Regions from separate parts of the Homo sapiens genome. Here region 1 is linked to region 2. Evidence: fine-mapped expression QTL. A gene starts in region 2. The other region holds a variant in brackets. All regions are shown on one strand. Distances are from middle to middle.

The links. PIP is the estimated chance that this variant, and not a neighbour inherited with it, causes the effect.
Region 1: its variant is the best candidate, but not a certain one, in a credible set for the expression of PCGF1 in T cells (TOPMed, PIP 0.88).

What each region holds. Positions count from the first base shown.
Region 1 is chr2:75,181,206-75,186,587 of GRCh38, forward strand. All of the region lies in intron 1 of TACR1 (tachykinin receptor 1), which reads right to left. The region is part of intron 2 of TACR1-AS1 (TACR1 antisense RNA 1); the gene reads left to right. Among named protein-coding and RNA genes, the nearest start is that of TACR1, 16 kb to the right of the region's middle. The variant C/T (reference allele first, on the strand shown) is at 2,514.
Region 2 is chr2:74,504,500-74,509,881 of GRCh38, forward strand. It overlaps PCGF1 (polycomb group ring finger 1), which reads right to left and starts at 3,196. Exons shown (of 9, transcript NM_032673.3): 1 at 3,077-3,196; 2 at 2,543-2,648; 3 at 2,233-2,385; 4 at 1,682-1,753; 5 at 1,453-1,558; 6 at 1,238-1,271; 7 at 1,053-1,139; 8 at 840-920; 9 at 544-691. The coding sequence starts at 3,169. The coding sequence ends at 644. LBX2-AS1 (LBX2 antisense RNA 1) reads left to right here. Exons shown (of 2, transcript NR_152616.1): 2 at 1-566. RefSeq lists enhancers at 2,459-3,389, 3,026-3,205, 3,946-4,005.

The sequences.
Region 1 (5,382 bases), 680 kb after region 2:
CCCCACTCTTCAACATTCTCCCACTCCTCTTAATTTTATTAGCCTCAAAAACAAATATGAATTTAAAAATTGAGGGATCATTTTGAAAAGCTTCTTTCCAAAATTTCCTTTAAAAACATCTAGAAAATAATTTAAAAAGAAAAAAAAGGAAATATAATCTGAGCAGGTTCATTAAGGGGAAAAAAAAATGACAAAGAAAACATACTCCAGACCACGGGTTCTTAACTGTCTGATGTTAAAATTAATTTATCTTTCCCCATATAAAATGAGATATTAGAATTATTTTTAAAAACCATAGTGGATTTAACATTATCCCTATGGTCATGTCACTCATTCATTTGCTCTTCTGAGTATGAAATAAACGATGAATTCATAGTGTCAAATTCCAATAATGCTCAGACTATCTAGTTGAACTCCAGCCTGCAGTGAGTTTGTTACTGAGGCCCCATTAATAGTTGGGGTGGTAATGAATTACCATAGTGCTTATAAGTTGTGATTTTATGTTTCTTCCCTTTTTGTTTTAGTTTTATTCATGGATAAATTTTTAATGTAAGAGATGGAAAGTATAAATAAAAAGTATTTGATCCTCCAAGGAGTCATGCTTCCTCCTGCCCAGGGTTTTCATAAATGCAGTTAACTTGTTTACAATTCTTTCCTCCCAACCTGACCTCACTCCTCTTAATTAGCTAAGACTATATTTGGTTACAAATAACAGAACGTCTGTTTATCAAGCGCTCAAAGAACTAGCGGTTTCATTGCTTTTCTTAACAAGAAGCCCAGAGCTAGTCAGTTTAGAGCTGGTCTGTGGATCAGTGATGTACTCAAGGGAATTCCAGGTACTTTCTAACTTTCTGATCCACAACCCTTAGCTTAGGCTAAGGATTAGACAGGGCTTGTTCTCATAGATGAAACCTGGTGTTCTTCTCCAGGCCTCTCGCCTGTGTTTCAGACAGCAAGAAAGGGGAAAGCTAAGAGTGAAAAAGCATTTCTCCTTGTGGCTGTTGCCTTTTTATTCAGGAAGAGACGCTCAACCTAGGGACTTCTCCTGTACCCCCATTGCCCCAAAATTTCTCTCATGGCCTGTGCTCCCTGCAAGGAAGGCTGGGATGTGGACAGCATCACTAGTAGGGGACTGCAAAGGGCAGGCAACTGTAAATGGCTTGTATGTGGTCAATCTATAGTATCTGCCACAATACCCACCCCTGACACTCTCACCCTGAACTCCCGCTCTTCCTTTAGATCTCAGCCCTGAGCCATACTGACAGTGTGAATTTTCATATACAGCCATGCGCCACAAAACAATGTTTCAGTCAATAACAGACTAAGTATATGATGGTGCTTCCATGAGTTTATAATGGAGCTGAAAGATTGTTATTGCCTAGTGATGTCGTAGCACAACACATTACCTTTTCTATGGGTTGGTATGTTTGGATAGACAAAAACTTACCATTGTGTTCCAAATTGCCTACAGTATTTAGTACAATTACATGCTGTACAGGTTTGTAGTCAAGGAGTAACAGGGTATTCTATATATAGCCCAAGTGTATCGTAGGCTATACCATCTAGATTTGTGTAAGTTCTTACACATTGTTCATGATGTTTGCACAATGACAAAATCACCCAATGACGCATTTCTCAGAATGTATCCCCATTGTTAAGCGATGTATTTCTGTACTCTCATAGCATTAATGTTCTTTACTAGCTCTTAAGACAGTTTAAAATTATACAATGATGTGAATAATCATTGGATTAATGTCTTATTAATACTTATTTCTCCCAATTGACTGTAAGCTCCTGAAGGGCAGAAATCATGTTTGATTCTTGCCATTGTATCCCTGAATCTCAGGTATATATGATGTAGGAGCTCTATAAATATTTAGATCTACATTTACAAGCATGAGTGTGTTCAATGTCAGTAGAAGATAACAATAAAGCAAAGTCATGATAAAAAGAAAATGTGCCAAACTTGACTTGTATTAAAAATAACGTTAGAAGCCAATAACTTACATGCAATAAGAATACATTAGAGGCACAAAGTAAGATTTATTTCTATTTCTTCTTCAATAGTATCTACTTGCTTTTCTTACTGTATAGTTTATGGGAAGGGAGGGCCTCGAAAAAATGAAACTTAGTGTTTTAAAAGAAAAGTTTAATTTTTAAAAATTGCAGCGTTTATCTATGTTTTTTCTCTAAAAAGGTTAATTATTGAGATCCTTAAATCAACAGCTATATTAATCACAGTCTTGTCAAATGTCTTACAAAATGCACAGCCAAGTGAAAAAGTCTGCATTGCTATACTGTGCTTATCTGTTACGTTTCCCTGGGTTTTGTCAACATCTGTGCCCATGAGGATGTGTCTCCTGGGGAAACCGTGTACTACGGCAGGAAAAAGATGGAGTACCGAAGTTCTGCTCACTGAGAACCGCTGCAGTAGTCCCTCCCCTGCTCTGTCCGAAGCTGGCTTTTGCCTTGATCACCCCAGGAAGGAGTACACGGCTGGGTTTCTTTCTCTG[C/T]GTTTATATCATTTTCTGGTAGAGCCCTTAAGCTGAGGGAGTAAAATCCTCAAACTACTGTGAAGACTCCATTCCCATTAGTTTTCTGTGTCAATAACGTATTGTGTTATTACTTTTATTCTTTTGCTTCACCTGAAAGGCTCAGCAAAAGTCCTGTGCTACTGCATGATGAGTAAACAGAGAAAAATAAGGAATTTATATTATTTAGGAAACTGGTTGGAAGAAAAGCTTCTCACTGAAGTTCGCTTATTTCAGCCAACAGAATTTTAGAAAACAGTTATTTCACTTATTCATGGCCCTAAACCTAAACTTGAAAAGACAGCATTAAAAAATTAAAGCTTATGTAAGTTGTATTTTATAGCAAGGATGCAAAAACGTAAATGAAATGTTAGTAAGTAAATCTAATAGTGTGCTAAAAGGACAAAGCACAAGAACAGGTATTGTTTATTCTAGGAGTTCTAGAACAGTTGAAGATTAGGAAAGTAGGCAATATGAAAAAATGTATTAATAGATGGCAAAAACACAATTGGCAAATTAAGTATCTAGATTTGATTAAATCTCTTAGTAAACTAGAAATTAAATGATGTAATTTTAAAATGTCTGTCTTAAGCCAATGGGCAACATATTTAACAATTATATTAAGAGAAACATTACCATCACAGGTTAAAAAAAAAGGTGCTTATGATCATGAGTTTTAATTAACTTGTTCTAAAAGATCTAATAAAAAAAGTAAAGGACACAGACACTAGATGTAAGATTAAAGCTGATGATGATTTATAGACTATGCCATTATCTGAGGAAAACCTGAGAAAAAAAACCAGAAAAATCATTAGAACTTCAACTGAATTACAGGACTTATTAAGATAGCTGGTTTCAAAATAACTATTAAAAAATAAATAGCCTTCTAGTACACCAATAATAATCCATTAGAAAAAAAACCAAGGGGAAATATTGTATTTTCATTAGCAACCAAAAAAGTTAAATTTATATATATAATTTATATACAACATATGTGGTAATATGATATATATTAGGTTCTATATTATGTATTATGCAATATATAATAAAACTTTTTAAAAAATGTGTGGGATCTATAGAAGAAAAATGTAAAAAACTGTAAAGAAATCATATTAAAAGCTCGACTACATAGACTATGCATCATGTTCATACACTGAAAAAAAACTTGATATGCTAATAATTCTTTCCAAAGCTAATTTCTAAATTTAATGCATCTATTGTATTTCCAGTAAAAATTTCAACAGGACTTATCCATAAGGGTGTTTTAGATTATGAATCCAGAATTTATCAGGAAGCATATATGCATGTTGATACGATTAAAGAAATAGTCAACAAAGTAGATAGATCAGAGAAAGCCTAAATATAAATAAAATTCATTGTAGGACAAAAGTAATATTTCTAATCTGTAGGGAAATGATCAATCAATAAATGGTGTTTGAACAATAGGATAAACTTATATGGCATTTAAAAAAGAGGTAATCTAATTATATTAAATTATTGGAGTGGAATATTAAACAACAACTAAATTATAAAAGTACAGTAAATGAAATTATTTATGCATATTTGCCTACTTTTGAGTTGAGGAAGGTCTTTTTATGCATAATAACAAAGAGAAAGCACAAAAGAAAAGGCAGATAGATATAACAACATAAAATAATATAAAATAATCACTGAAAAAGAAATGAACATTTTAACCTGAAATATAAAAAATTTTTATATCACATGACCATCAAAAGGTTATAGCCTTTAATATAGCCTCAACCTACAGTTTCTGCAATTCAATATGGAATTTAAAAATTAAGATTTAAATTTAAAGCTCTATTAATTCACAAATACAAAGGAATAACAAATATATTAAAATATACTCACTAGTAAGAAGTGCAAACATAACTAACATTTTAATCTTTTAAATTGGAAAAGATTTTTGTAAAATTGTTAGGAATATGGATAAAGGAACACTCCAATATGTTGGATCTATATATTCTGTTTCACACTGCAAATTACTAAAGCTTTCTGAAGAGTGGCTTAACAGAATGAAGCAAAAGGCTTAAGATGGCTAACACTCTGAACAAACAACTTTTCTTCTAAGAATTTATCCTAATAATCATCCATGTGCGCTAGTTTTGCTAAAACACATTGATGACAAATTATATGTTGTAGCAAAATCTCAAAACACCCCCCAGGGTTTAAGCATGAGGGATTATTTAAATTACGATACTTTGTAACCACTTGGCATGATCTTATAGAATAAAGTTTATTACATAAAATATATCTTTATTATGTAAAAGAAAAATAAAATTGTATATGCTATAGGACTATAATTATGAAGATTCTATGCATAGAAAGAAAGTCTTGGGCCAGGCACTGTGGCTCACGCCTGTAATCCCAGCACTTTGGGAGGCTGAGGCGGGCGGATCACGAGGTCAAGAGATCAACATCATCCTGGCTAACATGGTGAAACTCCGTCTCTACTAAAAATACAAAAATTAGCTGGGTTTGGTGGCTCGCGCCTGTAATCCCAGCTACTCGGGAGGCTGAGGCAGGAGAAATGCTTGAACCTGGGAGGCGGAAGTTGCAGTGAGCTGAGATCGTGCCATTTTACTCCACCCTGGGCAACACAGCAAGACTCTGTCTCAAAAAAAAAAAAAAAAAAAAAGAAAGAAAGTCTTGGCATGAAATAATTCCTAAGAATTGACAATAGTGGTGCTTAGGCAGTGAGATGAGCGTTGATTTTACATTTATTTTTCTTCAAACTATTTTTTTGTAAGTTGCTAATTCTCTTTAATAAGTGTGTAATATTTTACGATTTATTTATAATTTAACTATATTAAACTAAATTTAAACTAAAATG
Region 2 (5,382 bases):
CTCAGCTACTTATTCCCCACCCTGGCTTCTTCTAGTCGCAGTCCCCAAGTACTTGCTGAATCCTGTATGGACAGCCTAAGCCTCCATTTCTGACAATTCCTGTGGCCCCACTCCATTTGTTTTTTAGACTTCTCCCTCCTTTTTGTCCCCATCCCCCAAGTTATAAAACTATAATGCAATTCTTTGGATTTTTCTTTAAAAAATCACACTTGTTCAATCCTGCAGCAGCCACTGTCCAACTCTAGCCTTCTCACCACCGCTGAATTAGGAAACCTCCTAAGAGGCCCGCACCCGCACTGTATGCTGCAGCATACAAAGACAGCTGAGAGCTCCCCTCCAGGAAACCTTCCCATCACCAAAAAGAGTGGTGTGGGAGGCCTGGTTTCACACATATAGGGATCCTCTACCCTTCTCCTTTGGCAAGACATTGAGGGCCCATGGCCATAGAGGACAGGCCCTTCTTCACAATGAAACTCAGAGGATTTTTGAAGAAGGCAGGACACAGCATGAGTGTGAGGCAGGAAGAATAAGGCAGAAGAGAGGTGCTTTTTAAAAGTTTTTATTTCAAAAAATAAAGCTGCAGTTCATTTCACATAAATATCTGGGGAGGGAAGGGGAGTGGGATGGGGTGGGGGCTTGGCCCCTACCTCCTCTTCTCTTTCACACTGTATTGTAAAAGCAAAGGGGATGGCTAAGGAGAGAATGAGGAAGTAGTAGTCAGTGGGGAATGTTCTTATATTATTCAAAGGGCCCCTCAGCCCACCCTTCCCCTGAGGACTGTAGGATGGTTGGGGGGAGTCTGAAGGGGGTGTGATCCCAGGGAGGGTGGCCTGGCTTACCTTGCCGAACCAGCGGGAGAGCCATATCTGCTTCATTGTCATGTGATCAGGGAGAACTTCATTGTCAAAAAGGAGCTGCACCTAGGAGGGAGATGGGGGCATAATTTTAGGAACTTTCTGGCAGGTCAAAAACTACCCTGGTCCACCCTAGACTCTGTCCCTCCTTTCTTAGCCCCTTCTCCCCCTCAAGAAACCTACTGTGGGACTACTCACATGCTGAGGGTTTAGCATCAAGCGGTGACACAGGACCCTCCGGAGATGGCGTACCTCAGCTCTAACAGAACATCGGACATACTTGTTCTGGGAGCAGGGAGGGGAGGGAAGAGGGCAAGGTGTGTGAGGGAAGGACCATGGGAGGTGAGTCTCCTTAGAGAGGCCCTCCCCTCAGCCCTTCTCACCTGCAGGACGCTTTTATTCTTGTCTTTGCCAGAACTGGGGGGAAATAGACACAGGTTAGGGAATCCTATCTTTCCTCCTCTTCCCCACCCAGAGCCATGATATACTCTCTTCAAGGGGATAGGCACTCACTCACTGCTCAGCCTCTCCCCTAGACCCTCCCTGGCTCTGGGTCATTGGCACTGTCACCTCCTGCAACCCCTGACCTTCTCCTCACCTCAGCCGCTCCAGGCACAGGTTCAACTGCTCATCATAGCGATAGTAGTGGGCTTTAGAGTGGTCAAAGCTGCTGAAGGGGAGGCCGAGGTTGCTCAGTGCTGGCTCTGAGAAAGATAGGGTAGTGAGGTGGCTGGTGGCACACATTCCATACTCCTCTTTCCCCAGAGAGCAAAACTGGGCAAGAAGAATGCTCTGGGGTCTTTACTGTCCCGCGGCCAAGGACATACCTTCCCCAGTGGGCTGGGTGACCCGGTCCAAACCTCGGGACTGGTAGAATTCCCGAATCCGTTTCTCTTCACCTAGAAGAAGGTGAAGTATGAGAATAAAGTATTAGCCCTTCGGGGCCGGGCGCGGTGGCTCACGCCTGTAATCCCAGCACTTTGGGAGGCAGAGGTGGGCAGATCATGAAGTCAGGAGATTGAGGCCATCCTGGCTAACATGGTGAAACCCCGTCTCTACTAAAAAATATAAAAAATTAGCTGGGCATGGTGGTGGGCGCCTGTAGTCCCAGCTACTCAGGAGGCTGAGGCAGGAGAATGGCATGAATCCAGGAGGTGGAGCTTGCAGTGAGCTGAGATTGCGCCACTGCACTCCAGCCTGGGCAAGACTCCGTCTCAAAAAAAGAAAAAAAAGAATAAAGTATTAGCCCTTCCTCACTTTTTGTCCTTCCCTCATCTTTGGCCTTCTGCCTACGTGAGTCCTACCAAACCCGTCACCTCAAGCTGCCACTCAGCAATTAGTCCTCAAGAGGCCCCTCAAAGTCAGGTTGGTGACTCACTGTCTTGCAAGCCAGGCACCAGCTTATACACGATGTCCTGCATGACCCGGTCCAGTTTGAGGTTGAGCAGTGGCTGTGTCTCGTGGATCTTAATGTTGCACATGGGGCAGTACTTGCTAGTTTGGAGGTACTTCACAATACAACTCTTGCAGACTGCAGGAAAAGAAAAGCAGATTCTCAGGCCCTCTGGAAACTGGATTCATGGGCTGGGTGGGGTGCCTGGATGCGTGAGGCAGGCCGCACAGAAGCTGGCAGTCAGCTTGGTGAAGACTAGGGACTGGAAGAACTAGGCAGTCTCCAAGGCACTCACAAGTATGAAGACACTCTGTGATGGTGGTGGCATCCACGAAGTAGCCGGCGCATAGGCAGCAAACAATGTGTTCATTCAAGTCTTTGATCTTCACTCGAACCTCCTCCTGAAGATACACCCTCCGTCACCAATCATCCACCCTCAAACCCCAACCCGTGCGCCTTCCCACCTTGGGGGTCGCCTCCTTCATCACACTAGACGGCCAAGCCCCGCGCCCTGCGCCATCAGCCGGGGATTAGCTCCTGGGGGCTGGCACTCCCCCTCCGCCCAGCAGAGGGCTCCGCGCACAGCGGGGGCTTCCCTCACGTGGACTCGCCTGACCCTCCTTTCCCAGGGGAGACTACACAACGTCGGCGACACAACGCGCAGGCGTCCTAACCGGAGTTTGGCAACCCGATCGCAACCACGCAGGCGCACTGGGCACTCTGTCTCTGCGCAGGCGCACTGGGCGCCCGGCCAGCCACCGCCCGTCCTTTAGCCCGCCCCAATTCGCACCGCTGGCCGACCACAGCAGTAACCCTGCCGCCCTTGCACCTCGTTCCGTAGCGGGTCCATCTTGTACACTGACTGGAGCTGGTTCCGAAGCCTCATCGCGATCGCAATCTGGCCCCCCTGAGGAGACGCCATCTTAAAGGCTGATCCCAGCCGGCCACTTCCGGTGCCGCCTGCAGGGCGGGACTTGTCTCCCAGCAACGAGGTTCTAGGTCTTTTCGGATTCGCTCACCCTCTGTAAGGCCCCGCCCACGTCCCTTTCTCCCTGTGTGCTCACCTGAGCCCCACCGGCCCCTCCCCTGCTCAATCCGTAATTAAGGAGTGGGGGGGGGGGAGCACAGGGAAGGGTCTTATCTCTTCAACCTCCTGTAGAAATCATCATAATAGGCCCTACGCGACCTCAAGACTAACTTTCGGAGCCTGCGAAAGACTGCCCCCTCCTACCCCCAAAGGCCTGGCAGTCTGTGCCCGCTACCCGCTCAGGGTCGTCGGTCTTCTGTGACGACGACCCTGCTGAAGAAGCCCCTCCTGGGTCCTCTCCTCGTAATGCCGCCCTGTCGGCGTCCGCGTAGCGGAGCTTCGTCCAGATGGCGGGTCTTCTCCCGGCTTCACGGAGGGAGTTTCTTGGGCTTTGCAGAGTCTCGGAGAGGGTGCCGGGGGATGGGGAGTGAGAGACCCCCAGGGACTTGGTAGTGATCTTATTCCCCCATTCTCCCCCCTGCTGCCGGGGATGGGGGGGGCAGGCCCTGGTTAATGATGATGATTTAATCATCGGCGCCTGCGGAGGCCTGGGACAGACTAATGCAGAGCAGATGCCGAAGGAGGAGGGGAGGACGACTAGGACACTGCCACACACAGACAGGCTTAGGCAGCGAGCGCCTGTAGTAGCATAGGCCCAGTCCCGCACTTGGGGACTACGCGGGGTGCTCGCTCGAGAGCTCTACACCGCCGGCTCTGGGTACTTAAAAAGGGATAAATTTGCTATGAGGTATTAACATCAAATGCAACTGGAGATACGAGAAGGGAGAGATTCCAATGGAGACCTCAAAAAAGGCTTTCTGGAGAAAGTGGGACTTTGGGCACAATTTAGACTTGGGGGAGGGGGTGGAAGTGTGGTGAAATAGAAAGGACGTGGAGGGGAATGACCAGAGGACAGGAAGGTCAAGATGTAGATTTGAGAGTGGTAATAGAAAAAGCAGGGCCATAAAGAGTTGCGATTTTTAGCCTGAGGGCAATTGGGAGCTAGCGGACTTTTTTGAAGGGAGGTTATCCTGTGAAAGCGACATTTTTGTTCATTTCTCTTCAGAGTGAATTGAAGTGAATATGCAGCAAGAAGTTATGAGATTAGTGATTAATCAATTATTCGTTACAGCCCCTGTTTACCTACTTCCCTGGTCCGAGCCACTATCATCTGTCCTCTGTAGTGGCCTCTTGACTGTTTTCCTTGAGTCCCCCTTCGCCTGTTCTCAACATCACAGTTGAGTGCTGTTTCTCAGAGCTAGTGATTCTGATAAAACATGAAACACAAAGGACAAAGGACAATTTTTGAGATGTGGATATGTTTATTATTTTTATGGTGATGATGGTATCATGGGTATATACATATGTCAAAACTTATCAAATTGTACACTTCAAATATTTGCAGTTTATATGTCCATTATACTTCAAGAAAGCTATTAAAAATAAAGTTGAAAAATTAGGTTGTTCCTTTTTTACGTTTAAAACCTGTTGAGAGCTTCCCTTTTCAATCAGAATGAAAGTCAAAGTCTCAGAGTGGTGTGCAAGGGCCTGCATAGTCTCTTCAGATACACCAGGATATCCTTCCACTGTGTCCCCAACTTGAAATGCTTAGGTATCCAAAATGGCTCCCTCCTTCTTTCAGGTCTTTACTCATGAGGCTGCTGTAATCACTCTAGATGAATAACAACTCACCCACCCTTTCACTTCCTTGCTCTTTTTTTTCTGGTTAGCACTTATTAGCATTCTATCATTTATTATTATTTAATATACATTTCTAATATATATTATATTTTCTAGTTATTTTCAGAAAATATTTTCTAGAAAACATATTTCCTAGTTTTTCATCTGCCTTTTCCACTAGACTATAAGCTTCTCAGTGGCAAGGATTTTTTTTCCTCTGTTGTGTTCACAGATATAGCTCCAGTGCCAGGTGCATAGTTGGTGTTCAATAAAACTTTTCTGGATGAATACATGAATGAATCCAAGTGGTGGTGATGACAGCCTCGATTAGGGTTTTAGCAATGGCAATGGAAAGGAAGGGCTGTATCTGAAACAGTTCAAAGGAAAGTATAATAGGAGGAAGTAGCCAGGAACCTGGCTTGGTAGGC